Linked DNA regions of Homo sapiens. The protein of the gene in region 5 interacts with the protein of the main gene of each other region in a biochemical or structural test. Each region holds a gene or a part of one and is shown on either strand. Other genes may lie near its edges. The genes, in order: ANAPC4, UBE2D3, CCNB1, FOXO3, ANAPC11, ANAPC2 and UBE2D1.

Evidence for each region.
Region 1: the proteins of ANAPC11 (region 5) and ANAPC4 form a complex in vitro, tested with the Homo sapiens proteins (one study listed by BioGRID).
Region 2: the proteins of ANAPC11 (region 5) and UBE2D3 form a complex in vitro, tested with the Homo sapiens proteins (2 studies listed by BioGRID).
Region 3: the proteins of ANAPC11 (region 5) and CCNB1 form a complex in vitro, tested with the Homo sapiens proteins (one study listed by BioGRID).
Region 4: the proteins of ANAPC11 (region 5) and FOXO3 form a complex in vitro, tested with the Homo sapiens proteins (one study listed by BioGRID).
Region 6: the proteins of ANAPC11 (region 5) and ANAPC2 form a complex in vitro, tested with the Homo sapiens proteins (one study listed by BioGRID).
Region 7: the proteins of ANAPC11 (region 5) and UBE2D1 form a complex in vitro, tested with the Homo sapiens proteins (6 studies listed by BioGRID).

What each region holds. Positions count from the first base shown.
Region 1 is NC_000004.12:25,411,178-25,415,420, reverse strand, and holds part of ANAPC4 (anaphase-promoting complex subunit 4), read right to left. Parts: intron 1,777-4,243; coding exon 1,679-1,776; intron 1,098-1,678; coding exon 1,036-1,097; intron 956-1,035; coding exon 917-955; intron 823-916; coding exon 721-822; intron 22-720; coding exon of another isoform or gene 15-21; exon of another isoform or gene 1-14. UniProt on the Homo sapiens protein: Component of the anaphase promoting complex/cyclosome (APC/C), a cell cycle-regulated E3 ubiquitin ligase that controls progression through mitosis and the G1 phase of the cell cycle.
Region 2 is NC_000004.12:102,816,809-102,821,051, forward strand, and holds part of UBE2D3 (ubiquitin-conjugating enzyme E2 D3), read right to left. Parts: intron 1-4,243. UniProt on the Homo sapiens protein: Accepts ubiquitin from the E1 complex and catalyzes its covalent attachment to other proteins. In vitro catalyzes 'Lys-11'-, as well as 'Lys-48'-linked polyubiquitination.
Region 3 is NC_000005.10:69,173,650-69,177,892, reverse strand, and holds part of CCNB1 (G2/mitotic-specific cyclin-B1), read right to left. Parts: intron 3,643-4,243; coding exon 3,484-3,642; intron 3,017-3,483; coding exon 2,780-3,016; intron 2,497-2,779; coding exon 2,356-2,496; intron 2,070-2,355; exon of another isoform or gene 1,966-2,069; intron 655-1,965; coding exon 544-654; intron 370-543; coding exon 262-369; 3' UTR 1-261. UniProt on the Homo sapiens protein: Essential for the control of the cell cycle at the G2/M (mitosis) transition.
Region 4 is NC_000006.12:108,563,654-108,567,896, forward strand, and holds part of FOXO3 (forkhead box protein O3), read left to right. Parts: intron 1-3,518; exon of another isoform or gene 3,519-3,896; intron 3,897-4,243. UniProt on the Homo sapiens protein: Transcriptional activator that recognizes and binds to the DNA sequence 5'-[AG]TAAA[TC]A-3' and regulates different processes, such as apoptosis and autophagy.
Region 5 is NC_000017.11:81,897,520-81,901,279, reverse strand, and holds the end of ANAPC11 (anaphase-promoting complex subunit 11), read right to left. Parts: intron 2,039-3,760; coding exon of another isoform or gene 1,738-2,038; intron 1,361-1,737; coding exon 1,215-1,360; coding exon of another isoform or gene 1,130-1,214; 3' UTR 1,025-1,129; downstream 1-1,024. UniProt on the Homo sapiens protein: Together with the cullin protein ANAPC2, constitutes the catalytic component of the anaphase promoting complex/cyclosome (APC/C), a cell cycle-regulated E3 ubiquitin ligase that controls progression through mitosis and the G1 phase of the cell cycle.
Region 6 is NC_000009.12:137,182,061-137,186,303, forward strand, and holds part of ANAPC2 (anaphase-promoting complex subunit 2), read right to left. Parts: coding exon 4,164-4,243; intron 3,028-4,163; coding exon 2,853-3,027; intron 1,732-2,852; coding exon 1,612-1,731; intron 1,183-1,611; coding exon 1,065-1,182; intron 1-1,064. UniProt on the Homo sapiens protein: Together with the RING-H2 protein ANAPC11, constitutes the catalytic component of the anaphase promoting complex/cyclosome (APC/C), a cell cycle-regulated E3 ubiquitin ligase that controls progression through mitosis and the G1 phase of the cell cycle.
Region 7 is NC_000010.11:58,337,730-58,341,972, reverse strand, and holds part of UBE2D1 (ubiquitin-conjugating enzyme E2 D1), read right to left. Parts: intron 1-4,243.

The DNA.
Region 1 (4,243 bases), on a different chromosome or scaffold from region 5:
GGATAGTCAATAATCTAAAGGCTTAAAAGAACATGATTGTCAGGGTCAGTACATGTACTTCTTTAGAACACTGAGAACTTGTTTAAATGCCTAGATAGATAAACCAATTTGGTTTAAAATCACACAGTCACCAAAGACATTTGGAATAGAAATAACCCAATTATTTCTTTTTGGTTACATCGTGGTCTCAACATTTTCTTCAAATTCAGGTTTAAAACCATTTTTAAGCTACCAATGGCGTTCTAAATATGATTTATTTTTCAGAACTTCTACTTTCAATTTCAAAGTAAGTCTCTGTTAGGCAAGGCCTCTTGTTTAATGAAAAGCATACTTAACCCTAGGCAAAAATCATTTCTATAAGGCAGCCACTTTTAGAAGTTTTTAACTTCTAAAAAGTTAAAACTTCTTTAACTTTTAGTTTTTCGGAAGTTTTTAACTTCTAAAAAATGAAGTATAATATCCTGAGCTGTCATATTTTTCCTAACTCTAAAAAAAGTCCTACAATGATTATATGCCAATAAAAATTAAATAATCTAAAACAAGATCATATAACTTCCTAATTCAGTGTTACCCTTTTAATGACATGAAAACTAACAATTAAATGACACATCTAAAAGTCACAAAGTAGTTTAAAATCTGAAATGCTGGAAGGCTGTATGCTTCATTCTTACAAATAATAAAATCTTATCTCTTTGATTCAAACTTCAGATTAATACTTACTGAGAAATATCAGTATGTCTCCTTAAGATGCACATTTTATAAAGTGAATCTTCTAGAATAGTAAAAAGAAGATAATGTAGATTTGAAGTTTTATTATTCCACCTAAGAAAAAAAATTGTCATAATATTTTTTAACTATTGATGGATAAAACAAAATTGTATTGTTCACTCAAGATAGGGAAGAAATATATACTTACAGAAAAGGAAATTTGAACAATCTACGTGTAGAATCCTCACTAAAATAAAAGGGAAAAAGAAATGAGAAAAATTTAAATTGGCTGCGGAATTACACCATCCAATAGGTAAACAGAATTACCTTCTGGTATCTCTATACAATGGAATACAGATTGCTTGATTCATCGATTTTCCAATTACATCCTATATAAAATAAGATTTTAAAATATAATTAGAGCGTTAATATGCACACAGATACTCTACAGAAAGTGACTGACCATCACTGTTCGAATGTGGTAAAAAAATCGCCTACATCACCAAACCTTGTACATAAGAAACGTTAATGACAATTGTAACAGTAAGGAAAAAGAGAAAATTCTGAGCTGAAAAGGACCTTGGTGCTAAGCACATGGCAGGTTTAAGACCACCTCCCTCTGGTCTCATAACAACCATTCATTCACATCCTTCAGTAGTAAGCAGAGACACATCAGCTCTGTAACTAAGACTGTTTACAATGAATTTCTTCTGGGAACAAATAAAATACTCAAGATGCCAACACCTTCAGTAATCTTTATACACACACACACACACACACACGTGTGTAAGAAACTTAAGTTGGAGTATTAGGTTGAACCATATGAAATTGTTACTTTTGTTAATCAAAAACAGTTGACTATCAACATTTTCATAGTTCATTCTAAAAATTAAGATCATTTACATAAGTGAGCCACATACTGTAGACACTATTGCTCCTACACAAAGACATGCATTTCTTTCAAACTTACTGCTGGCTTTTGCAAACACTGATCAATAATATTCTCCATCCGCCTTTTCACAAAATGCAATGATTTTCGAGGATAATAAGGAAACAGCAAAGGACTTTCTGGTTTCAAACAAAAACAGAAACAAAAATAAAAGAAGCTATAGCAAACTTATAATTAGAAGAAAATAATCTACTGTTAGAGCCAGTCTGCACAGTTTATCTCGAGGTAGAATTTTCACTGACCACTTCATTGGATTTTCACACAACCTCATTAAAAACGACCATGGTCTTCTGCCTTTCATCAACCCCCGCTGACAGCTCACTAAAAACAATCTCACTTACTACAAACTTAGACTCACCAAAATCCAACTGTAGGTTTCTGCTGGCTATAAGAAGCAAGGAATGATTTGGGAACCATCAAATATATGATGAAATAAAATTCATTCTTCTATTCTTTGCCACAGTGAAACAACAACAGCAGTCCAGTACTGTTTTTTAAGTCTCTAAAACAAGAGACTGGAAACTAGCTCTATATAAATAAGCTCTTTACTTTTTAAAAGGTTACTTTATCAGGAGAAAGTAATATATAATTTAGCACTAACACCTGCTATGCTAGGTGTTTAAAATACCTTTTTTTTTATTGCTTACAATAGCCATATGAAGTAAACACCATATTCTCCAATTTACAGATGAAAAAAAAAATGAAGCTTAACAGGTTTAGGCAATTGCCCAGTGTGAAAATAACTAAGTATCTAGTTCTGTCAATCAAACCCAAGTCTGACTCTAATGCCCACCCTCTTCCACTGTGCTTTGTAGGCCCTCCCTTAGATAAAGCCATGCTGGATAAAATGAACTACAATCACATTAACATTTTAAGTTCTCAAGGTGACAGATGCTATGTTATCACAGAAAAACATTGATCTTTGTTTCTAGTTCCTAGAACAGAGCTTCCAAAACCCTTGGAATTTCCTGAGTGATAAAGGTGACAGGAACATTTTTTTTTTTCTTTTTTTAAAGACAGAGTCTCATTCTGTTGCCCAGGTTGGAGTGCAGTGGTGCAGTCTCAGCTCATTGCAAACTCTGCCTCCCGGATTCAAGCGATTCTCCTGCCTCAGTGTCCCGAGTAACAGGACTACAGGTGCACACCACCACACCCAGCTAATTTTTAGTAGAGATAGGGTTTCACTATGTTGGTCAGGTCTCGAACTCCTGATCTCAAGTGATCCGCCCACCTCACCCTCCCAAAGTGCTAGGACTACCATCTTTTGTTTTAATGAGGCAACTCTTGGCTGGCACCTAGATAGCTTTAGGATAGGGGCTGGCCACCAAAAAGACCAAGCCTTGATTAGAAGTTTGGAAACTTCAGCTCCACCCGCCAGCCTCCAAGGAAGAGAGAGGGGCTTGGAGGTTGAGTTCAATCACCAATGGCCAATGACTTCATCAATCATGTCTACATAATGAAACCGCCAGAAATACACTGGGACAATGAGGTTCAGAGAACTTTCTGGGTGGTGAATATGTCCAGGTGCTGGGAGAGCATGGAAGCTTTGCACCTTTCTCTCCATACCCTGCCTGATATAGCACTTCTATGTGGCTGTTCCTGAGTCATATTCTTTACAACACACTGGTAAACAAAAATTATATGTTTCCCGGAGTTTTGTGAGCCATTCTAGCAAAATTATCCAACCTGAAAGGGAGGAAGGTTCTGGGAACTCTTGACCTTAACCTTATAGCCAAGTCAGACAACAAGCATGGCTACCCAAGAGATGTGGGGACCCAGAGACCTGACATTTGACGCGAGGGCAGTCTTGTGGGACTGCATCCTTATCCTGTGAGGTCTGCGCTAACTATCTGTAATTCGTGTCAGAATTGAATTGTAGGACACCCCGTTGGTGTCAAAATTGGTTGGTGTCAGGAGGAAAAAAATTTCTCTCATTTTGTTGTCAGAAACACTGAGTAAAAAGTGCTCAGACACTAACCTACAGACTGCTTCTGTGCTAAGTGCCAGGCATTAGTCTAAGTGCTTATGTAGATTAATTTATTTAATCTCCACACCAGTTTTTTGAGGGCAGCATTATTACCATCTTCATTTTACAGATGAGAAACTATGGCACAGAGAGGTTAGGCAACTTGCTCTCAGCCGTGTTACTACGAAGTAGTAGAGCAGCTTCCAACCCAGAAAATCCAGCTTTCAGAGCACCAACTTTTACCCACCACACAATACTGACCCATGTACCCTAAAGAAAGTACACAGATCAAGTATTTAGCACTTGATTTTTGCAGTGTAAGAAAACAGTTTCACTGATATTTCCTCACTAGAATTCATTATGGAACTCAATAGTGAGTTCCATTAGGTCTGTAGCTAAGATCAGGCCTTTCTTATTCAAACACGTAAGATGTGGGGCAAATAAAAGAGGACAGGACCTATTTTTAGCCTGGCAAAGTTCCCTGGATCAATAATAGCCAAAATAGCAACAGGGTCCAGGTGCCACTACTCTTGACGCACTGCCACTGACCCTCTCCAGACATCCTGCCTTATTCCCTGGGCATCCTGATTAAATACAGTAAATAAGTAGCGTCTCCTGTA
Region 2 (4,243 bases), on a different chromosome or scaffold from region 5:
ATTCATAGGAACATTGCCTTTTTGGTGCCATGCATGTTAGGTATAAAAACACCAAGATAATTAAGATAGAAATGCCTCCTCAGACTCAGCTAACAGAAAGCAGGTGCAAGACAAAACAAAAATTATACTTTAACAACCTACATGCTTAAAATAAAGGGACTCAAATGCTCTGAGAATCCTGAAAAACCAACCACTAACTTTTCCTGGGTTTAGAGGAGTGCCATTTGAGCTGGCTCTTGATGGAAAAATAAGCAGGCATTTACCAAGAACAAGGAGTGAGAGAAGCATTCTAGGTAGAGAAACTCAAAGTCAGGAGTGTCAAAGAACACAGGGCATAAAAATTTGCCAGAACAAATACTGCAGAGTTTGGTATACCAGACAGAGTACACCAGGAGAGTGGCAGATTTAGCTAAAAAGGCAGGTTATGACTTGATCTTTTAAAAGAGCCCTTGAATTTAGTCAGACTATTCCAAAGGCAATGGGAAATCACTGATGGTTTCGAAATAGAAGACAAATGAGTTTTGATTTTTAAATATACTAGCAGTCGTACACCACAAGTGTTTAACTGTACTCTTATAACCACTTTACGGAAATAGAGCTCATCTTCTCTGTTTTACAGTTGAGTCCCTTAAGAGAGGGGAAAGAAATGATTACATTCAAGCATAGAACATGTTCAGCTTTAGGATAGGTGAACTAAGTGTACCTACTAACAACTTAAAAATTTGGACTAGGGGTAAGTTTCAAAAAGGTTCCTTTCTCAACAGGGTGTCCTTGCAAAGATAATTTAATGTTTGGCAAACTGAGGGAAAAAAATTCTCAACTGCACCAAACTATTACTCAATGCTCCAGAATGAACACGATATGGAAAACTAATGTTTTCCTTAGTATTTATTTCCGCATAACCATCCACCGTTAGTCTGTATCTCATTATTCGTACGTAGTGTGAATCCAGTACTATTTTTCAAGTTACATGGCCTGAGAAAATGATTCTATCCCACAGCAAGACTATTTACTGGACTGGAAATCAATTTCCAACGACACCCATACTCAGCATTTTTAAAAGTAATTTTGTCTACGATAGTCACCTAACAAAATGTTTTTAGAGCCTAAAGTTTCACAGGCTTCAGGGACAAAAACACTAAAAAATTACACAATTGAAATTTTCAGCTTATTCCTTCCTAGCAGTCTAGAGGAAGAGGAACAGTGCCAAGAACCAGAAGGAACAGCTCTCACACGGCACCTGTAAAATTTTTTTATACTGTGCTGACTACCCCTCACCTAAGGGGAACAGCATTACTCAACTATTAAGGCCACTGAAACAGGAAAATGTTTGGTTGGGGACACTGACTTACTTTAGGAATTGCTCAAGGTTCCACTCACGTTGAAGGGACACTAAGATCAAGCACATACAATCAGGGTACAACACTAAGAAACTGTACTAGCTATAAAAAGAACAAAAGGTTGGACATTTCTTTTCCACAGAGTGCTCTTTTAGGAAACTTTCTCCTTTTAGTGTCATCTTCCTCTGAGCTGCTTCTCCTCAAACTTTCTGCACACTTGGCTAGTGTGAGAATCCAGACCTTCTCACTGGAAAAAATACTTGTATTTAAAAGCCTTAAAAAACCTATAGGAAAAGAAGTCAAGGAGACCCCTCTGCCTTCTTTCTAAGCTAGGTAAATGAGACCCTCTCAAAGCTCTCACATGGTCTAGTTCGCCTCATTAGTTAAAACACTACAAAGAAATTTGAGACAGCAACAGACTTTACACAACTGAGTTGTTTGCCTATTTCCTGAAGACCTGGTGGGCACCATGGTAGAAAATAGGGCAGGATTTTTTTCACCAAAAAAATCTCTCTAAAAGGCAACCAACAGGTACAGCTTAAGCCACTGGTGAGTGTTCTCATCTGGAAGTACATGATTTAAGCAGTAATGGGTTTGGTCACTATTTTTTTTTTTATTCTGAAACATTCCTTACATGAGATTTTTAATACAAAGCCTGCAAATGGTTTATCTTGAGGAAGACCTTTACTGTAGTCACTATGGGATATGGGATTTAACAGTTGATTGTTGGAGATGTTAAACTATGCTTTCTGCTTCTCTATTCTCTATCTTCCTCATTCAATGATAAGTGGTACTAGCAGTGGTGACCAACCACAGGCTACAAAGAACAGTAGGCCAAGGTATTGAAAACATTAAAGACCTGAAAGGATGCTAGGAGAAACATAAGAATGTCCCCTCCCTTGCTGGGCGTGGTGGCTCACGCTTGTAATCCTAGCACTTTGGGAAGCCAAGGCAGGCGGATCACCTGAGGTCAGGAATTCAAGACCAGCCTGGCCAACATCGTGAAATCCCATCTCTACTAAAATATAAAAATTAGCCGGGCATGATGGCGGGTGCCTGTAATCCCAGCTACTCGAGAGGCTGAGACAGGAGAATTGCTTGAACCCAGGAGACGGTGGTTGCAGTAAGCCGCAGTTGCGCCACTGCACTCTAGCCTGGGCAGCTGACCAAGACTCCGCCTCAAAAAAAAAAAAAAAAATTCCCTCCTTTCAAAGAGCTTATAAATTGGAAATACTAAAAATATTTATTCACAAATATTTATGAATATTATGAATATTCATGAAGCTACAGAGCAGCCATGTTCCAGGAGCCCAATAAGTATCTGAACATTCGGTTAACTTTCTTTCAATGACAGCCAGTATCTGTTCATCAGATCAACATAACCAAAAGGTAGCATTTATGAAAACAAGGTTTTAAGTGTCAACCCTATTAAAGCGTAACGCCATAAATAACTTATTCTAGGTTTCATCCCCCCAAGGCTTGTCAAAATTCAAAAGCCTATATAGTGGCAAGGCCAAGTTCATGGATTCTACCTTTAAGACAGTAAAATTATCACCACGATGTTCCACAAATCATTTGTTATCCCAATCTCTACCATCTATTTTGCACGTCATCACACAAAGGTCATACAGAGGACAGAACGCAGTAGTATAGATACATTTCCTCTCAGCACTTTCCGGAAAACTAAAAGCTTATGCCATTACTAAAGGTTAATTTCTTGTATTCTATTTGAGAGTCTATTTCTTTCAGAACTAAAGACAAGATTTACATGACTCAAAAGACAAGATTTGTATGACTGTGAATCAGCATTATAAAAACAGCCCTTGCCTCAAAAACCTATACTGAGCAACACAAAACACTGCTTTGGGGACTGGAAGAGATGATAAAATGAGGTGGGAAACAAAGGGAGTAAGTGCCTTAAGAAATTTTAAGAATCATCCTCAAGAAGACTTTACAACCAACCTAGAAAAATACAAAGGTGCGAACCAACAATAGAGGTCGAAGTGCAGTGCAATTAGCTGTCCATCAGGCAGACAGTAACTACTGTAACTGTTCATATAAAGATCTGGTTTACTATAAAGTTTTATTAACTTTAATGTTATGAAATGTCTGTATAAAATATGTAGATGCGAATATCAAGGCAGGGAACAACAAACTTCAGAAACATGGTTATTTCAAGAGAAGGATGCTTGGCAAAAAGATATGAACAATTTCACAAAACTCCAAATAGTCCCTTTAAAACACATTTTAATTTGAAATTTCTTCTGAGAAATCCTTTTTTATCTTAAGGTTTAACAGTAGGCACTGCACAGTATCTCACTGCATCACTGACAAGGTATTAACTTCCTGTTTAGTCGTAATTATAGGTGAAACAAGCATGCGTGTTCATTACACAAGGTACTAAGAATGGATTGAATATTACTAATTTTCTTTCGATCACCACTGAAGGTAAAGTCACTTAACATTATTCAAAGCCATTCTTTTGTAAGCATTATTTAAAAATGGGCAAAGAAACCCAAATTTAGATTTGAAGCTCTGCTCCATGAAAGCAAGAAGGGTGTTTTATGGACATTAAAACAAACAAAACAAACAAACAAACAAAAAAAACAAAGATTAACAGCCAAACAGCTGCCCAGTAGTAGAAAACATTCAATTACACATTAGCCATGAAATTACAGCAAGGTTAGGATTAATGTAAGTATTTCATACTGAAAAAGGTACAAGAAATCATGATTCACAATTGACAAACATTTAAATACGACAAATTCAGCTATGAAAAGTTGAAGGTCTCTTTTACAATAGATTATGTTGAAAGTATCATTAGGAGATAAAAATCAGATGTTTCAACAAAGTATAAAAATACTTCCCTAAACTTTTCCCTTCCCTACATAACAAGGTTGAGG
Region 3 (4,243 bases), on a different chromosome or scaffold from region 5:
AGAACCCAGTATATAAACATATACATCAATTGGATCCCCAGGTAAACCAAAAGGAGTTTTTAAAAATATCCCCACCATACCTTTTAAGACAACTTTTCCGCTACCCTACAGTAGGAAGTAACCACATTCAAATTAGTTAAGCTATAAAAAAGTAAAAGGGGCCACAAGCTTTATTAAAAGTAAATGCAACAGTAATATGTACAGATGGCACATGGTGCCAATTTTATTTGTAAATATAGTACTCCAACTCAAGTTTACAAGTTACACCTTTGCCACAGCCTTGGCTAAATCTTGAACTAGTGCAGAATTCAGCTGTGGTAGAGTGCTGATCTTAGCATGCTTCGATGTGGCATACTTGTTCTTGACAGTCTGGAAGACAAAAAGATAGCAATTAAAGAGGCAAAAGAAAAAAAATCACAAGATGCAATGATACAGGTATTCATTTAAAACATTAACTCATTAAAAATAAACCAGGCATTTGCAGGCATTAAGTTTGAATTATTACACTTTTCAGCATCTTACAATGCCACTATATTGACTCACCATGTGCTTTGTAAGTCCTTGATTTACCATGACTACATTCTTAGCCAGGTGCTGCATAACTGGAAGAAGAGATTCTTCAGTATATGACAGGTAATGTTGTAGAGTTGGTGTCTAAGGCAACAAGTTAATGTTAAAAATGCTCAAATCAATAATGATTTTCATAAAGTTTCTAGATGTTAGATGTTATTCAGGAGTGGAAAAGAGATGGGTACTGTATAATTAATATAACTGAAATTTAAGACAAAGCTAAAGACTCCTTTCCTAGGTGCTCTCATGCTTCCTCTGCTCAAACCTAATTGCACTTTTGTAATTGCTGACTTGCCCACCCTAAAACTAGACTCCACTTCCTTGAGGCCAACTTTGTAATTTTTTTTTTTTTTGAGATGGAGTCTCGCTCCAGGCTGGAGTGCATGGTATGATCTCGGCTCACTGCAACCTCCGCCCCCAGGTTCAAGTGATTCTCCTGCCTCAGCCTCCTGAGTAGCTGGGATTACAGGCGCGCACTGCCACACCTGGCTAATTTTTGTATTTTTAGTAGAGATAGGGTTTCACCATGTTGGTCAGGCTGGTCTTGAACTTTTGAGCTCGTGATCTGCCCAACTCTGCCTCCCAAAGTGCTGGGATTACAGATGTAAGCCACTGCACCCAGCTACATAGTTCTATTCTTAAGACCTAGGGTAGGCCGGGCACAATGGCTCACGCCTGTAATCCCAGCACTTTGGGAGGCCAAGGTGGGCGGATCACGAGGTCAGGAGATCAAGACCATCCTGGCTAACACGGTGAAACCCCATCTCTACTAAAAAAAAATATATATATATATATAAAATTAGCCGGGCGTGGTGGCAGGCACCTGTAGTCCCAGCTACTCGGGAGGCTGAGGCAGGAGAATGGCATGAACCCAGGAGGCGGAGGTTGCAGTGAGCCGAGATCACGCCACTGCTCTCCAGCCTGGGCGACAGAGAGAGACTCCGTCTCGAAAAAACAAAAAAAGACCTAGGGTAGTGCCTGTCACATAGGAGAAGCATTTGTTGAATCAATGAATATGAATGAACTACTAGTATGTCATTTGACCTTCAAGTTTCTCCATCTGTAAGGAGTAAAAGTTGCTCTACCTTTCTCAAAGGGAATAAAGTTGAAATCAGGGAAAGAAATGGAAACACTCGACTGGTTGCAATGGCTCACGCCTGTAATTCCAACACTTTGGTAAGTGGAGGTGGGTGGATCGCTTGAGCCCAGAGTTTCAAGACCAGCCTGGGTAATATAGAGAGACCCCATGTCTACAAAAAATACAAAGCTCAGCCTCCAGAGTAGCTGGGACTACAGGCGTGTGCCTGTATATATATATATATATATATATATATATATATTTTATATATTTTTTGTAAAGATGAGGATTTGCTATGTTGCCCAGGCTGGTGGGCGACTCTTTTGTAGTTCATAAGTGTGATGATTTGGTGTTCATGTGAACATGTGAAACGTGCCACCCTCAAACCTTGTTACAATGTGGGCATATTACCCATCTGACATGAAAAAAATTTAAAAACTAGACAGACACCTGTAATCCCAGCTACTCTGGAGGCTGATGTTGCAGTGGGCCAAGACTGCACCACTGCACTCCAGCCTGAGTGACAGAGCGAGACCTTGTCTCAAAAACAAAAAGATGTGGAAACATTCTAAGACATCTTTTTTAACTATTCCTTCAGTAGATCCCATATTTATGAACCACTTGAATTGCCTTTTAATAACAAAAGTTCTGTATTTAGTCACTCTTTAAAATTTAAAAGCTTAGGAGTTCTGTGGGACACAGCTTACCCATTCACCATTATCCAGAATTTTCAGTGCTAAGCAAAAAGCTCCTGCTGCAATTTGAGAAGGAGGAAAGTGCACCATGTCATAGTCCAACATAGTTAGTTCCATCAGGTATTTGGCCAAAGTATGTTGCTCGACATCAACCTGAAACAAAACCCATGTTACTGAGTTTCTTTCAGAAAATTTTCCTTTGGCACTAACCTGCATGCCCATATGTATCTTTAACTACAAATGTTTGTCTACAAACTCTCAAATGCCCATGGAAAGTCCTAATATTAACATGCAGCCTGACTAGAAATAAAGAACAACTTTATCCCTTCCCCATGTAGTTAGGTATAATACAGGTCAGTTGAATTCAACGTGCTTGGTCAGCAGCAGTGTTCCCCCTAATGTACCCATACGGAGAGGTTTCTCAAGAAACCTGTACCTCTCCAATCTTAGATGCTCTCCGAAGGAAGTGCAAAGGTAGAGGCCGACCCAGACCAAAGTTTAAAGCTCTTAGAATCTTCATTTCCATCTGTCTGATTTGGTGCTTAGTATAAGTGTTGTCAGTCACAAAAGCAAAGTCACCAATTTCTGGAGGGTACATTTCTTCATATTTGCTTGCAATAAACATGGCAGTGACACCAACCAGCTGCAGCATCTTCTTGGGCACACAATTATTCTGCAATGGGAATTTCAATAGGGTGAATAAAATGTTTGAAAAGGAGACACAGAGCTATGATGAAGGAGAGGTAGAAAGACATTCTCCCATAGCAAAATCTTAATGACACCATATCCCCCAAGAAAGATTTTAGTTGAAAAAGTCAGTTTATTTCTTTCTTTTTTTTTTGAGTCTCGCTCTGTCACCCAGGCTGGAGTGCAATGGCGTGATCTCAGCTCACTGCAACCTCCGCCTCCAGTAGCTGGGACTACAGGCGCCCGCCACCATGCCCGGCTAATTTTTTGTATTTTTAGTAGAGACAGGGTTTTACTGCGTTGGCCAGGATGGTCTCGATCTCCTAACCTTGTGATCCACCCGCCCGCTGGGATTACAGGCATGAGCCACTGCGCCCAGACTGGCCTGAAAACATCAGTTTCTTATGACTCGGCTAGAATCCTGGAAGGGAAAACTCTTACTGAAATGCTCACCTGCATGAACCGATCAATAATGGAGACAGTCATGTACATGGTCTCCTGCAACAACCTGAATTTCATTTGAACCTGTACTAGCCAGTCAATTAGGATGGCTCTCATGTTTCCAGTGACTTCCCGACCCAGTAGGTATTTTGGTCTGACTGCTTGCTCTTCCTGCAAAAGAAAATGCTGATTATTCTTAGAAACATGACTCCATGTGACACATTTATGTCCAGAAAGATCAGTTAGTTCCTACAGTAGCACTGGGGCATTTATAATCTATATCAGTTCTTAATTCAATTATTCATATGGTCAACCACAAACAACACCATCACCAAGAAATAAAGCAAACATGAAGGCTGGCGTGGTGGCTCACGCCTGTAATCCCAGCACTTTGGGAGGCTGAAGTTGGCAGATTGCTTGCAGCCAGGAGTTCGAGACCAGCCTGGCCAACATGGCAAAACCTGTCTTTACTAAAAATACAAAAATTAGCTGGGCATGGTTGCGCACACCTGTAGTTCCAGCTACTTGGGAGGCTGAGGCAGGAGAATTGCTTGAACCTGGCAGGTGGAGGTTGCAGGGAGCCGAGATTGCACCACTGCACTCCAGCCTGGGTGACAGAGTGAGACTGTCTCCCCACCCCAAAAAAAAAAGAAAAAAAAGGCAAACATTAGATAGGACAGTATGACAGCTTTTTTATATTGTCAGGTCTTACGATATTCTTCACCACAACTGCTGCTGGTCCACTCCCTTCCAAATAAAGATACTACATTAT
Region 4 (4,243 bases), on a different chromosome or scaffold from region 5:
CTTTAAACTTAGTTAAAACGTTAACGTAGGAAGGCGTTTTCACCTTTCCTGTGATTTTTAAGGTTACAAAAATAATTTAATTTCACAAATATTTCTTGTTATTTTGTTTATAGTTAAATATAATAAGTTTAATGAACTTTATTTTTGGGGGGAAGATTTACATGAGATAATGGTATTACCAAAAGTAGCCGCGAATTGAGATTGGGCTAGATACATTTTCATATAGTTTGTAGGACTTGCAATACAGATTTTGGGACTAGTCATAAACTTTATGGTTTTATGTCATCGTTTTTTTGTCTTATGGTTTTTTTTTTTTACCCTTCTCTGCTATCTCATTTCTCTTCAACTAAAATCTTAGAAAATACTGTAAATTGAAATTCTCAAGGCTTAATATGCTTAATACAGGGCACACATTTTATGATTCTTTTACCTTAAAATTTTTTACCAATTCCATTTCTGAGTGTCACATGACAACTAATCCTTGACGACTAAAGGGATATAATTTTGTTAGAGTTTTTATAAGATGATCTTCATCAAAAGATGCAGCCATGCAGGAACTTTCAAATCTTTGATGATGGAGAAGGCCCTTTGAAACTGGAGCTGGTTTTATATTTTGATTATGACTAATAGGCAACCTTTTTTTGTGTGTGCTTGTGGTTTAGTGGAAGAAGAGGGAAAAGGGAGAGATCAGGAGCTAATTGTGACCCATTTCCAAGTGTCCAAGTTTAGGAGTTGATTCTTGTCATGATTAGTCATTTTGGAAGCACGCATGTGCATTTAAACCACACTACTTTCATTCTGAGTAATGTAAGAGGATTTTTAACTTCCAAAAATGTCTAGAATTCAGGTTAACGTCTCCTAGTCATGTGTGCATAAAGGGCACGGTATGCAGGGCCTTACTTCTTTTCAGGCTATTTGGGCCATTGCATTATGAGACCTTGTAACCAAAATTATCACCCTAACATCATAAAATGAAAGAATTAGAAAAGAGGACTTAGAGATCAGAATCTAAATCAGTGGTTCTCAGCCCTGGTTGCATGTTTGAATTACCTGGGAACTTCTGAAAAATACAAATACCCAGAGAATTTGATATAATTTGGCTTGTGTGTGGCTTAGCATTGATGGTTTTGTGTTTTGTTTTTTTTTTTCAAGTTTCTTAGGTGATTCTAATGTATAGTTAGGATGAAGTTTTCTGATCTAGTTCAACCCTCTTATTTTACTGGTGAAAAACCTGATTTTTGGAAAAGCTAATGACTTTCTTAAGATCACACAGCTAGTTAGTAGAGAGGTAATTAGTAGCCACAGTTCTAGAGGTTTTTGTTTTCCATTTTCTTCTTTAAATTGATCTTTTTTAAAAGGTCATTTGCTAGGTAATGGATAGTCTCACATAAGTAGCGCTTGCTTTCCTGAAAGGCTTATTTGCCTCTCAATCTAAAAACATCTTGCTTATTATTTCAGCATCAAAAGGATGGGCAAATGTAGATGGAGGCTGAGTGAGTGTATCATGTTTGCATAGCTGTCCAGTGCCTGTCAGTAGGGGTACTTAGGAACTATGAAGTGATAAAAGAGGTAAGAAGGATAGCATTTTAACAAAAAGAGGAAGCCCTTGGTTACTTACATTTGTCAGATACTGTGTCAGGGAGAAGGATGATGACTATCTCACAGGTTCCCTTACCTCGGGCATTAAAGTAGAAATGAACAATCAGATGTGGTTAAGAGGGGAAAAGGTTACATTTCCTTTAATTCAGATTAAGCTTGCACTGCACCCATGATTGAACAAGTGAGTTCTCTCAGTTCCTCTTGTCTTGGGGAGACCTCTAAGGACGCCAGGGCTTACCTGGTAAGGCCTATCTATCACTTATTTCGTTATACACAGCACACATCTGCTTTTCCCATGGGTCAGGGTGTAATCAAATTAGGCAGACTTGAGTTTCTGTAGTGGTTCCCATAATTTCACAAGTGTGGGGGATACTGTGTTAAGATTTCTGCTGCTGCTGCTGCTGCAGAAGATAATTCTTCAAGAGTCCGAGTCTTCTTTCATGTAAGAATGTGTATTGTTATGGCTTCTTGCCAAGATAAAAAGATGAGGGCTGTCCTGTCACATAATGCTTATTTGTGTCCTCACTGTTTCTGTTCTTTAGATTAATACATCCAGTTCCTTTTCAACACACTGTATTAGGAAAATGTTATTTTAACTGCAACTCTGTTTTAAATTTTTTTTTAATTTGAAAATGACTAAGTCATAATCATTCCACATTGGCTCATAATTTTGACCTCAGTCACCTTTTGGAGTAACTCACCAAAAGGCCAGTTATGGTCGTGTGTGAAGAATCTGTCTGCTTGGCCCGTGTTGCCAAAATGTCGTTTTGTAATTTCCTTTGGCAATAGTGTCTTCGTCAGTGATTCTCAACTAATATACTTCCTCTTTCTACAGCCCCAGTACACTAGAGGGACTGTTTTTCCTCTTTTTCAAAGCTGTGTCATTGACCTCTGAAGTGAAGAAATTGGCCCTTTTAGACTTTGATCTGTGAGTCCCATGTAACAGAGACTCTTTAAAAAAGAAGCTAAGTGTGTGTTTTGATATGTTTATCTCCTTCTTAGAAAATGAAATGAAACTACAGCAGACTTATTTTTAGGAGATTTTAGGAGTGTTCTATTTTAAGAAAATGACACCATACAAGAACATCTTTTAGTTAAACTTCTTAGTACTCTGCTTGTGATTCTTACTTAAAACCTGCAAGATACTTTTATTTGGAAAATTAATGAAGAGGCCTTGTCTCACTAATAAGTCATTTAATTTGGTCTGGCAAAAGTTTACCATCCATTCAAAGATCTTCATGAAAATGCAAAGATAAGGCTGTTTAGGCTTGAGCCCAGGAGTTCAAGACCAGCTTGGGCACATAGCAAAACCCCATCTTATTTTTTTTTTAAAGACTGTTTAGGCCTGTGCATTCTGGCAGGTTGCCCCACTTACCCAGAGCAGGTGCATCAGATTCCAGATTCCCAGGGCTGGAGAGAATATGGAATTTATTTTGTTTGTATACCCACTTATTTTGCCTATAGGGACAGACTTGACCCTATTCTCAACTCCTCATTTCTCTCCTTTTCCTGCATCACAAATTGAGGGGTCCTGAAGAGCCACTTTACCTTTTTGGTGCTATAAAAGGAGCTGGGGATCATAAATGCAAAGACGAGTTGATATCAGTGGATGTTACAGCTGGTATACAGTAAGTGAATGAAAGATTGGAAAGAGAAAACCCTTTTTACCCATTTGCATCACATCCCATTTCATGTATTCAACAAATGTTTATCAAAGGCATGCTGCTTGCAGAGCATTTGCCAGGACTTAGGGATATAGTGGTAGCAGAAGGCAGATAAAGTTCCAGTTCACTCACAGGAGTTCATATTCTGATGGAGGAGACAGAAAATAAGCTATAGCATATCTGTGCTTTGTGAATTTGTCATTGCTGCCTATTCCCGTTGCCTTTTTTTTACATCTGTATTTCTGCTTTCTCTAGTACTTCAACTCTGCTAAGAAGTTGCTGGGAAGTGGCAAATTTGATGTGGGGCATGGCTTGGAGCTAGCCTTTAACTCTCTGCAGATCATTTTGAGCTTGCTTTGGAGATGCAAAACCACCGTACCATGGCTCCTGTGGATTGGGTCTGTTTGGGAGAAGCTTTGGTTTTCCAAGCTCCACCTGGATTAGATAGAGCACATCTTTGGCCCTGGACTGATCTGGGATCCCCAGTTCTGTCTCCCAGGGCCTGATGTAGATCTGGCCTTCCTCTGGAGTGGATGTGGAGCCTTGATGCCACTGACTCATCTGTATTACTTGTTGCCTAAAACTCAGAACTAAAAGAGATCTTAAAGATCATCTAACTACCTTATTTTGCAGGTGAGAAACATGCTAGGACTATGTGAGTGACTGGGTTCAGGGTTCCACAGCTAGTAGGGGTGGAGTAACGGGTGTGTCCAGTCAGTGCAGTGGTTCATGCCTATAATTTTAACACTTTGGGAGGCCAAGGCAGGAGGATTGCCTGAGGCCAGGAGTTTGAGACCAGCCTGGGCAACAAAGTGAGACCTCGTCTCTACCAGAAAAAAAGAAAACTAGGCCAGGTGCGGTGGCTCATGCCTGTAATCCCAGCACTTTGGGAGGCCCAGGTGGGTGGATCACCTGAGGTCAGGAGTTCGAGACCAGCCTTACCAACATGGTGAAACCCTGTCTCTACTAAAAGTACAAAA
Region 5 (3,760 bases):
ATACAAGCAGGCAGAGGAACGTGGAAAGACTAGACTGGCTGAATCTGGCCTCCATCTTTCTCCCATGCTGGATGCTTCCCGCCCTCGCACGTCGGCCTCCAGGTTCTTCAGCTTTTGGACTCTCGGACCTACACCAGTGGCTTGCCAGGGGCTCTGCAGCCTTTGGCCACAGGATGAAGGCTGCACTATCGGCTTCTCTACTTTTGTTTTGGGACTCAGACTGGCTTCCTTGCTCCTCACCTTGCACATGGCTTATTGTGGGACTTCACCTTGTGATCACGTGAGTCAATACTCCCAATAAACTCTTCATATATACTCTTCATATAGAGTCCTGTCTCTCTAGAGAACCCTGACACAGATTTCAGGTGAGGCCTGGTCTACTCCTCAGGTTGCTGTGAGGAAGGGTCAAGAGACACTGGGCACGGGTCACTGGCCCCATGAATGCCAAGGGCTCCCTAGGTTACTGGAGACACAGCCTGTGCTCTGTCCAGAAGCAGCCTGAGATGCCGGGGCTGCCACTCCCCCAGCGGCCCCTTCCCACCACGATTGTGGGGAGCAGAGGCACACAAAGGAGCCTCCCAGGGCCACCTTTCCCTAGGAAGGGAAGCCTCAGACGTGTGGACACACTTCCCAGTGTCAGGACACTGATCCCTACACTGTGGGAGGCCCAGCCCCGCTGCAGACAGTCCCAGTGAGAACAATGGACGCCCACTCAGAGATGGTGGCCTTCAGTCTGGAGGCGCCACAAGCAGTGGCCGCCAGCTTTGCACAGCCAGGGTCCCTCAGAGCCAGCCTGAGGGAGGGTCCCAGGGCCGCCGCCGGCAATCCAGCAGGCAAGAGCATGCCTGAAGAGCATGCCCCAGGCTCTACCGTCTGATCCTGCTCCTTCTCCTCCCAGTCATGACTCAGGGTTTGACGAGGGCCTTGGCGTTTCACGGAGATGTTTATTCATGAGAGTTTTCATATCAAAACACACCGAGACCACATCTATATGCCGAGAACACAGGCACCCAGAGGCCTCCAGCAAGATTTGAGTAGTTTAATGAGTTTTCACTTATTGGATAAAAGTGTCAACATAGTGATGGCAAAACAAACGCAGCTCCAGCCCTTGTTTCCACCTTGTTGCAGCTCAGGGGCGCTGTCCCCAGCAGCCATCGGCGCCAGCATGAGGAAGGAGTCTCAGGATGCCCCTCCAGCGAGAGCCAGGTCGGGCCTCACTCCTTGAACTTCCATTCCTGGCGGCACATGGGGCAGTGCTGCTGCACCTGCTGTGCGTGCAGCCACTTGAGGATGCAATGCATGTGGAAGCAGTGGGAGCACTGGCCCCACACCAGCGGGCAGTCGTCGCCGGGCACCTTGCCTACGGAGGGGAGGTGGGGAAAAGGACAGGCATGACCAGGCTGGACACAGAGCATGTGACAAGCCAGGCAGGGGTGCAGGTAGGGACCCTGGGCAGTGGCTCCAGCACTGCAGCCTCTCATGTTTCAGAGAAGCCGAAATCAGGAGTGTTACCCAATCGGTCTCCTGACCAGCCCGCCCCCAGGCGAAGACCAGCAATGACCAAGGGACACCGGACATGCGGCCTCCACCCGGGGCAACCGCAGCAGGCGCCTCCCCTCACCCAGGCTCATCATGCTCAGTGGGGAGCCCAGGGGCCTCTCTGAGGAGGTGGCGCTCTGGCCTAGCCCACCCTGTGTCCCCTGTGCTTGAGGCTGGGGAAAAAGGGCAATGTCTGACCTACAGGCCCTGGGCCCATCTGCAGACACTTGATCTGTGATGCCAAAAAGGTCACATGAATGGTCAAGGCACCAAGGAGACGTGCATCTGAGTAGTGAACTGGTCTCTTGATCAAGGGCAGGAGGGGTGGGGTCTGGGGACCTAGAAGACTCTTCCCTAGACATCAGGGATCCGGTGTGCTGCCCAGGCGTTGGGGAAGCTGTGTTGATGGGCACCTGTGGATGGGCCCTGCCTCCCAGGACAGGCACAGGCTGCGGGCACCAGCCCAAACACCTAGAAATGCTTTCTCCATGGAGAGGACCTGACACAGAGAGGGATGCTTGTATCAGCCATGATCAAGAGAAATGAGTGTCCCTGATCTCCAAGAGCCTGGAAACCCCTGAGGAACAGCTGCTGCCAACAGAGCACAGCAAGTCCCAGCCCCAGCCCCACGGCAGGGTCGGCCTGGCATTGTGGAGCTGGAGCTCGTGGCCACCCTCCTGTCCTGGCAGCGCCGGCCCCACGGCATGCCCACTCCCAGCCCTGGGAGGACCTGCCCGTGGGGGTTTCTGGCCTCAGCACAACTCTGCTTGATATCGGCCCTTTCAAATGAGAGCTGAAGCCTGCTAGCCCCCTGAGGAGAGGGGTCTGGGCCACTCTGAGTACTCGGGGGAGGCCTCGTTTAGTCAAAGGTGTCACTTCGTTCTAGTGCATTCCCCACCCGAAGCCGGCCTGGGGTGTCTGATGAGTCCGCAGATGCACTGAGGGTGACTCATTCCAGGACCTGCTGGTCTCCTGATTGCATTTTTTTAAATTAAAACTCCTCTCGGCAAAACTGCACTGCCACCAGAGTCCCCTGGGATGCGGGATGGACTCATTGTTTACCAGCCTCGGGCTCCCACGGTCTTTGTTGAATGAACTTAGTCACTCTGAATTTTTCACAGGAGTTCAATTTTAGCAAAAGAAACCTGGTGCTGCTTAGTATGGAAGCACATTGGACTCGTCAAACGCTTTGCGCGTTAACACTGACTCACTATGACTTAACCATCAGCAGGTCCAAAAATTAGACTCTCAACTCCTGAGTCTCTGCAGCCAACAGGCCCCATGTTAACAAAGCCTGAGCACACTGTGTCAGCGGAGACATGCTGAGTGTTCAGGGCAACACCCTCTGGATGCCCCATCACAGGCCCAGCTGGCATGCTGCAGGGCGGGCTCTGCAGGCTGCCTGTGGACCCACCACTGCAGTCACTTGGGGGCTACCTAGCACCACCTCTAATCCACAGGATTCACCACCCACATCTGGCCCACGGATGCAGCCAGACGAGGTGTGGACACATGGTTCGGAGGAATTTCAGAAGTTAAGCTGCTGCTCCAGAAGTCGAATGCCTGCCCTCAGGGCATCCCACGCACTCTTTGTTACATCCTTAAGAGCAATTTAAAAGAGATCAAATAAAACTGTGCCTTGTGAATTTAGTTATTAACCTAATTAGCTATTAACTACAAATCCAATCAGGTAGAGTCAATCAATAATTTCCTAAGATTACACCCTACCCGTTTGATTAAATGAGGATTAATTCCTGAGTGATGAGATTTCTATTTAGCTAGGGCCAATGTAAAAGTTAAGCCTAGAATAAAAAGTATTTGTACGGGCCAGGCGCCACACCTATAATCCCAGCACTTTGGGAGGCTGTGGCAGGACAGAGCCAAGAGTTTGAGACCAGCCTGGGAAACATAGTGAGACTCCATTTCCACAAAAAAAATTAAAAATTTATGTAGTTTTGTTCAGGCATGGTGGCTCACGTCTGTAATCCCAGCACTTTGGTATGCCAAGGCAGGCAGATCCCTTGAGCCCAGGAGTTCAAGACTAGCCTTGGCAACATAGCAAAACCCTGTCTCTACAAAAAATAAAAAAATAAAAAATTAGCCAGGCATTGTGGAGCATGCCTGTGGTCCCAGCTACTTGAGAGGTGGAGGTGGGAGGATCACTTGAGCTGAGGAATTGAAGGCTACAGTGAGCTATGATTTTGCCACACTGCACTGCCGC
Region 6 (4,243 bases), on a different chromosome or scaffold from region 5:
GAGCTGCGAGCGCAAGGCCGGCCTGCGCACCTGCAATCCCAGCACATAGGGACACTAAGCCAGAAGACCTAAGCCCAGGTGTCCGAGGCTGCAGGGAGACAGGATTCTGCCACTGCACTCCAACAGAGCGAGAGCCTGCCTCAAAAAAAAGAAAAAGAAAAAGAAAAAAGGGCCGGGCACGGTGGCTCACGCCTGTAATCCCAGCACTTCAGGAGGCCGAGGCAGGCGGATCACGAGGTCAGGAGATCAAGACTATCCTGGCTAACATGGTGAAACCCCATCTCTATTAAAAATACAAAAAGTTAGCCAGGCTTGGTGGCGGCCTGTAGTCTCAGTTACTCGGGAGGCTGAGGCAGGAGAATGGCGTGAACCCGGGAGGCGGAGCTTGCAGTGAGCAGAGATCGTGCCACTGCACTCCAGCCTGGGCGAAAGAGTGAGACTCCATCTCAAAAAAAAAAGAAAAAACAAAGAACTGGCTCAGAAGCCAGGCCAGTTACAGCCACAAAGCACCAAAGGAGTCCAGGTAGGGGCCAGACTCCACCGGCTCCTGCTGCTCGGCTCCTGGGGGCCACTGTGCCTGCCAGCCCCGGGCCAGGGCCTCTGCGACCCCTGAGGAATTCCCAGGCAGCCATGTCAAGGTCCTCATCCCAACACATTCTCCACCGAACAGCCCCAGGAGTGTCTGTTCCTTGCCGTGGGAAAGGCCAGGACAGCAGAGCCCACTCCCCTTGCCTGGTCGGCCTTGGGGACTGGTCAGCACCAAGGCGAGGCCAAGTGGAAGAGCTTCTCTCTGTGCTGGAGATGGGGAGGCTGAGGAAGGGCTGTGGTGGGCCTCTGGCAGCTGCACACAGAGGGCACGGTGACACCGTGTGACAAGGACAGGTGCCCGGCACGGGCAAGAGGAAAGGAAAGAGCCTCGGGCCTGATCCCGTGCACTCAGCCCAGCCGGGGGAGACCTTGTGTCCTGACGGCCGAACACACCCTCCGGCTGCCCCCCAGGACCACGAGGAGCTCAGCAGGATGCCCAGGGTCCCAGTGGCTCCTGGGCCAGCTGCAGCCCTCACCTCAGGTAGCGGCGGATAGGCTCACAGGCCACCTCCAGGATGACCATGGAAGGGTCCAGCACGCGCAGCGCCTTGATGGCAGAGATATAGAGGGTGATGATGTCACACGTGTTGACGCCTACAGCCAGGGCAGAAGCCAGCAGTCATGCAGTGCCCGGGACCACAGCCTCCCAGGGGCAACACCCGAGTAGACAGCTGGCCATGCCGGTAGGTGGTCTACAGGTCCCCACTGCAGCCTCGTTCCCTTGTCCCCCCATCCCCACCTCTACCTGTTCACAGGTCCCGCCCTGCAGGGAGGTCTGTTCTGAGAGAACTAAGTCTCATCACCTCAGACCTACCGGTCAGTCCTGACTCCCTCCAAAGAAGAAACAAGCAAGCTGACGGGCACCTCAGATCCCCTAAGGACCTCACCAATTGCTTCTCAACCCATTTCTTCCTTAGACCTACAAGTCCAGGGCTGGCAGACTAGGCCCCAGGCTCCCTGGACATGGGTCCCCTGGTGAGTGTCTAAGCCCAGAGTGCTGGGTGGCCGGGCAGCACACAGCACCTGGATGCAGGAGCCGAGTCTCCAGGGCAGCCTTGAGGGACACGAGCAGCTGCTGCCTCTGGTCCGTCCTCTCCAGGCAGTACTTGAGGTCCTCGATGGCTGGCCGGGAGTCTGGGAAGTCTACAAGAAGAAGAACATCCCTCAGGGACAGACATGGATGCGTGCGCACGTGCAGGCTGGTGCAGAGTGTGTGCGGTGTGGGAAAGGACACGTGCTTGCCAGCCCCAGGACGATGATGAGACCACCTGCTAGGCACCAGACATCCCCCCGACACTCTGGCGTGCTGATGCATTTGACCACAATGCCACAGGGTGGACAGAGCAACACCCAGGGGCCAGTCCCCAGCAGGAGCCAAGGCCAAGGCAGCACAGCAGTGGACACCCAGAAGCACTGTCCAGCATCTGCCACACCTGCCCTGATCCAGGCACGGGGGACGCCGCAGTGGGGACAGTCCCAGCACTGCCCGGTGCACCCCCCTGCAAGAGCGACAGCGAAGGCACAGGGAGCCCCAGACGTGGACACAGGGAGCCCAGATGCAGACACAGAGCCGACATGGCGAAGGCCCTGGGAGCCCCAGATGCAGACACAGAGCAGACACGGCGAAGGCACAGGGAGCCCAGACGCAGACACAAGGAGCCCAGACACAGACACAGAGCAGACACGACGAAGGCCCTGGGAGCCCCAGATGCAGACAAAGAGCAGACACGGTGAAGGCACGGGGAGCCCAGACGCAGACACAGGGAGCCCAGACGCAGACACAGAGCAGACACGGTGAAGGCACAGGGAGCCCAAGACGCAGACACAGAGCAGACACGGCGAAGGCACAGGGAGCCCAGATGCAGACACAGAGCAGACACAGCGAAGGCCCTGGGAGCCCCAGACGCAGACACAGGGAGCCCAGACGCAGACAGAGCAGACACGGCGAAGGCCCTGGGAGCCCCAGACGCAGACAGAGCAGACACGGTGAAGGCACAGGGAGCCCAGACGCAGACACAGGGAGCCCAGACGCAGACACAGAGCAGACACGGCGAAGGCACAGGGAGCCCAAGACGCAGACACAGGGAGCCCAGACGCAGACACAGAGCAGACACGGCAAAGGCCCTGGGAGCCCCAGACGCAGACACAGAGCAGACACGGTGAAGGCACAGGGAGCCCAGATGCAGACACAGAGGAGACACGGGGAAGGCCCTGGGAAGACTCCCCAGACGGGAGAGCGGACCCCAGGGCCGGGGCAGGACCACCTCGGACGATGCTGAAGAGCTCCTCGATGCGCAGGCTGGCGTAGATGCGGTAGAAGAACCTTTGCACGTGGCAGCGCCAGCGGCGCAGGGTGTTGCCGGCCTCGGGAGATGCGGGCCTGGCGGGGCCGTCCTGCAGGAACACCTTGCCGAGCCAGCCGACCACCCGCTCGATCCACTGTCAGGAGAACGCTAGTGTGAGCTGCAGGGAGGCATGGTGAGCCCCGGGCTGACTCAGAGGCTGGGAGGAGCCTCACGGCCACCCACCCTGTCGGCCGGGACCGAGGGGAGCCCGAAGGCCACCTGCGTCTGGAGGCTGGAGCACATCAAAACCTGCAGGGTGGGTGATGGCCCAAAAGGCGACGTCCCGGCCCCCCTGCAGTCTTCGTGCCTCTCACACGCGCCAGTGCCCACACTTATCACTGGCAGCAGCAACCCTAGCGTGAGACATGACAGACACACACGACCTGTGCGCTGTGCCTGGTGGGCACACTTGCCCCCACTTAAATGGATAAACACGCCCTTGAGACCAGCCGGGGGGCCCAGGCGAGCACAAACCTCTAGGTGGCAATTCCGCCGCGGGGCCCAGGCGTGCTCATGCCCCACAGACCTGCTACCCAGTGGCAAGACCGCACGGATGTTCACCCTCTCCACCCTACTACCCACTCTTGCCCACCGCTTTGGGGACACCCTCCCTCTTTGAAAACCCAACATCACAGCCAATCTGCACCTCAGTAGGGGGACTCTGAAACACTGAGGAAAGGACAGGTGACACATGGGAACAGGATGGGGGGACCCACATGGCTGGGCCCAGCTCCCCTATGGCTCCGGGAGCCCAGAGCAGAGCCCCAGACCACACCCCAACAGCACAGGTGCCTGGAGGCCCCATGTGAGGGTGTCTCGCTCCCCGCTGTGGTGCAGGCTGGCTGTAGGTCAGTCCATTAGGGACCGGCCAAGCGAGTCCACACTCAAGTAGGGCAGCAAACAGGAGAAGGGGATCCATTCAGTGGCTCCTCTGGTGGGCCCAGCTTCGCCACACCTGCCTGAGGTAGCCCCCTCGGGATCCTGGCCCGATACCGCCTGCAGCCATGGGATTCTGCGCAGATCCGAAGAGCGCACCTCAGATGCGTCCTCGCTATCACCAGGGCCCAGAAGTACTGGTCTCTACCCCACATCAAGACAGCTCCAGCCACCACCCGGTCTGGGCCCACCCAGGCCTCCGTGCTCTGGATGCTTCTGAAGCCAGGTGTCAGGTTTGCCAGAAACCTACTCCCCTGTCTCCAGCGGGGCACAGCCCAAGGGAGGGGTCCTCACCTTGTGGAACTCACGCAGGAAGGAGCGCTCGTACTCGCCCCGGCAACGGTCCTCCATCCTCTCCCGGGTCACCTGGTGCA
Region 7 (4,243 bases), on a different chromosome or scaffold from region 5:
ACCCCTCCAATTCCCAAACTGCAAATATGGTCATATTATATATTCTAGTATCATTTATTCCAGCATTTCACAGGAGAGGAGAGAGGATAAGTATCTCAATTCCTGTTGTTAATTCAATGTAATCAGTTTATTCACTATTAAAAAGGCAGGGACTATTACATTAGTAGATGACCATTAACTCAGTTTTATGGCTAAATATTAGGTTTATCATTTCTATTAGTAGCACTCATTAAATGAAAATAAAGGGCCCATATGTTTTCTATGCGTATTTCAGGGAACTAAAGCGAGTAAGGACGCTATTTTGCTTTCCTGGAGGCAATCCCACATCCTGCTAGGTTTGGTTTTCATATGTGCCTGGCTTCTTAAAATAGGCATAAACAGCTTTATTTAGTTCTAGGCTATTTATTTCCACAGAGAAGAAATCTCAGAACTTTTTAACTGTCATAGGTTACCTCATTTTTTTATACCTCTATTGCGATGAAGAAAGAAAAATACAGTATCAAGGACAAAAGAAAGACTGAGCTTAATTACAAAGATTTAAAAAAAAATTTACATCGTGGCTTATTAGAGAAAGAACACTATCTCGCTCTCATCTCAAGGAAAACCATTTATCCCAAAATGCATAAATACCGTGCTTCTTTAAGTTGTATCATTCTTTCTAGAAAGAACTGGAGTCTTGGATTTAATCTCATAATATGAACAGTTTACTACTCAAAACCACTACAGGAACTAAATGACTCTGTCAATTCAAAAAGTTATCTCAAATAAAAACTTCACAATGCAATGATACTTTTGACAGAGCATTTATGAACTACAACCAATGTTTCAAAATCCTTTTGGAGGAGAGAAATTCAAAGTGATGAAACAAAGATGATCAAAGTTATATTACTGATTTACAATGTTAAACGATCTCAGCATGTGTTACTTTGGAGCAGAGATTTGCGAAGCACAATCAACACATTTGAGCAATGTGTCAGTGAAAATGATCAAATATGCCAAGGTCTTAATTATAACACCACTTTACATTTGTATAGAACATTCCAGTTTGCAAAGCACTTATATCCCATAAACCCATTTGACTCTATGTCTTCCAGTTTAAGTACAATAGATACGAGTTCATGTGGATAAGAGAAGCTATGTACTGAAGTGGTTAAGAATATGGAATTACATAAGACACATTAAATTTAATTTTGCTTGCTTCTACTTCCCGTTTTAAAAACGTGGCTACTAGGAAATTTAAAATTAAAATGTAGCTCACATTGTATTTCTATTGGATAGCATTGTTCAGTCAGTTTATTGACAGATTTTATTTGCTATCCTAGGGGGCACAATCATTGGCATATAAAAAGATTAAGACAAGGAAATAACACTCTCTCCACTAAAGGATTTGACATTTTAAGTGAAGTGTCACAGGTTCAGTAATAATATTACAGCCAAGCTTAAAAGCAAAATAAAAAGTAAAGTCATACAAAACTTTGTCAGGGAATGTGGCTGTTCTCTTCTATAAACAGATTACTGATATTAAATTATGGAAAGTGATTTAAGAAACAATGTTACCATCTTTAAAAGCCCACAAATTTGCTCTGCTGAACAAGGAGGAAAATGCTCTGCCCATGGTCTGGTTTCTAGAACCTGAATGTAAAGACAGAATAAGGCAAGTAGTACTCTGATATCGTTTACTCCTTCATTTTACAGAGAAAGAAAATGAGTCTTAGCCTGACTAGGTGGCTTATCCAAAATGTCATCATTTCAAAATTTAATCAATATAAAAATGTTTATAAATATCTCATTAGTAACAATTATTTAGATTTGTATACTAGGTCTTCAAATTCCAGTACATATTTTACACTTCAGCACATCTCAATTTGGATACTAAATTTTCGTCAGCAATATTTGATCTATATTTAGATTTCATAAAGCTCAAGGTTGAAAACTAAATTTTCATACCCAATTTGTTTCCATGTGGCTACTGGCTACATTAGACAGAAAGCTTTATAGTATATCTGGTGAGTTCAGTAATCTCAGTGAATGCTCTCTTCAACATCCAAAAACTATCATTCTCTCCTAAGAAGTGGAAGAGAAGGATCCTTGACTCTCTCTTCAGATAGGCAGTTTGGTAGCTTTCAGTAGCGATATGTAACTGCAACTATTTTTGTGTTAACTGGGCATGAGAAGGTATTAAATAAAAGATTCTAAGACTGAAAAAAAAAAAAAGGAATGTGGAATTGAAGCCAACTGTTTGTTTTGGAATCGTAGCATTGTCACTTACTAGATAATGTGATCATGAGTAAACTACTCAATATTTCCCTGCCTTAGTATCATCATCTGTAAAATGGAAATAACACTGTTTCTACCTCTTGGGTATACTAAGAATTAAGTCAATTAATATATGTCAAGTACTTAGAAGGCAGAGTAACGATTACAAACACCCTGGTTTTTGAGATCAGCAGCCTCATATGTATGGATATCCATACATATCCATTGTATGGAAATGTATGGAAAATATGTACTAGCCTCATTGTACGAAGCTAGTAAGCCACACAGCCAGGAATAAAAACCAGACCTTTGGCTGCGTGAGGTGGTTCACGCCTGTAATCCCAGCACTTTGGGAGGCTGAGGCGGGTGGATCACCTGAGGTCAGGAGTTCGAGACTAGCCTGGCCAACATGGTGAAAACCCATCTCTACTGAAAATACAAAAATTAGCCAGGTGTGGTGATGCAGGCCTGTAGTCCCAGCTACTCAGGAGGCTGAGGTGGGAGGGTCACTTGAGCCTCAGAGGCAGAGGTCACAGAAAACCGAGATTGTGCCACCGCATTCCAGCCTGGGTGACAAAGTGAGACCCTGTCTAAAAACAAAAAAAACTCAGACCTCCTTCTTCCATTTGATGCTCCGTCCATAGAGGGCTGGGTTAAGTATCCTAAAGTTTTCTAGACTGACATAAACAGTTTAACATAAAATTCTACAAATCAAAAAAATTCAGCAGCTCAAACATTTATCAAATTTGATTTTAATCTATGTCTCTCTATATATGTTTCAGATTACATTGATTATTAAAAAACAAAAACAACTAATGTTCCATTTGGGGGCCAGAATTACACACTAAGGAATAGTTCTCTGAGTTGCTATGTTTGTAAAACGGAACTCTATTGCCTCACTTTTCAAAAGACAAAAATGTAAATAAACTTATCACATCACATCACATCACATCACATAATGCTAGTATGATGTTCATTACCTCAAATTCTTTATCAAATAAAATCTATGATGATGACAATGACTGTTTTAGGATTTCCTTTTTTTTGCCCTTTAGTTTTCAAAACATTTGGTATTGGGATATTAACACCTGTAATTTAAAAAATAATCCTCCCCAAAAAAAGTGTTTCAAGTAATGAAAATAGTATTGATAGAAGAAACAACTTAGAAATTACTTCTAGAAAATAGATACCTAGGTGAAAAACTGTCCTCCTCTTTTCAGACATGTTTTAGGTATCTTTCCTTAGACTTTGTTCAAACTTTTTTTCTTTTAATGATTTAGGTGACTGCGATAACATCTTTCACTGTTATTTAAAAATAGGGCATGGGTGTGTAAATTTATGAGCTGGAATGCAAAACTGGCACACTAAATCAGAGCATTAAATCATTTAGTATATTCTAGTATAGTTAGTTTATTCTACTATAAAAATATATTTTAAGCATTGATATCTCCATGCTCTGTCTTTACATATAATTTTAATCCAATCATCTTTATTCTTTTTCATAGTGAAGAAATGTGAAATCATGAACTTTTTAACACTCTCAAATAGCCAAGCCAATTAAGAGATTATTGGCCGGGTGTGGTGGCTCACACCTATAATCCTAGCACCTTGGGAGGCCGAGGTAGGTGGATTGCCTGAGCTCAGGAGTTCGAGACCAGCCTAGGCAACACGGTGAAACCCCATCTCTACTAAAATACAAAAAATCAGCGGGGCATGGCAGCATGCGCCTGTAGTCCCAGCTACTCAGGAGGCTGAGGCAGGAGAATTGCTTGAACCCAGGAGGCAGAGGTTGCAGTGAGCCGAGATCATGCCACTGCACTCCAGCCTGGGAAACATAGCAAGACTCCATCTCAAAAAAAAAAAGAGATTATCTTTGGACAAAGCACTCCTCCACTCCAGGCCTCTGGATCCTTCCTTGAATAAGGACAGGCCAGAACATCAGTGGTCCTCAGTCTTCTTTCCACCCCAACCGATCTGAGGGATTCAA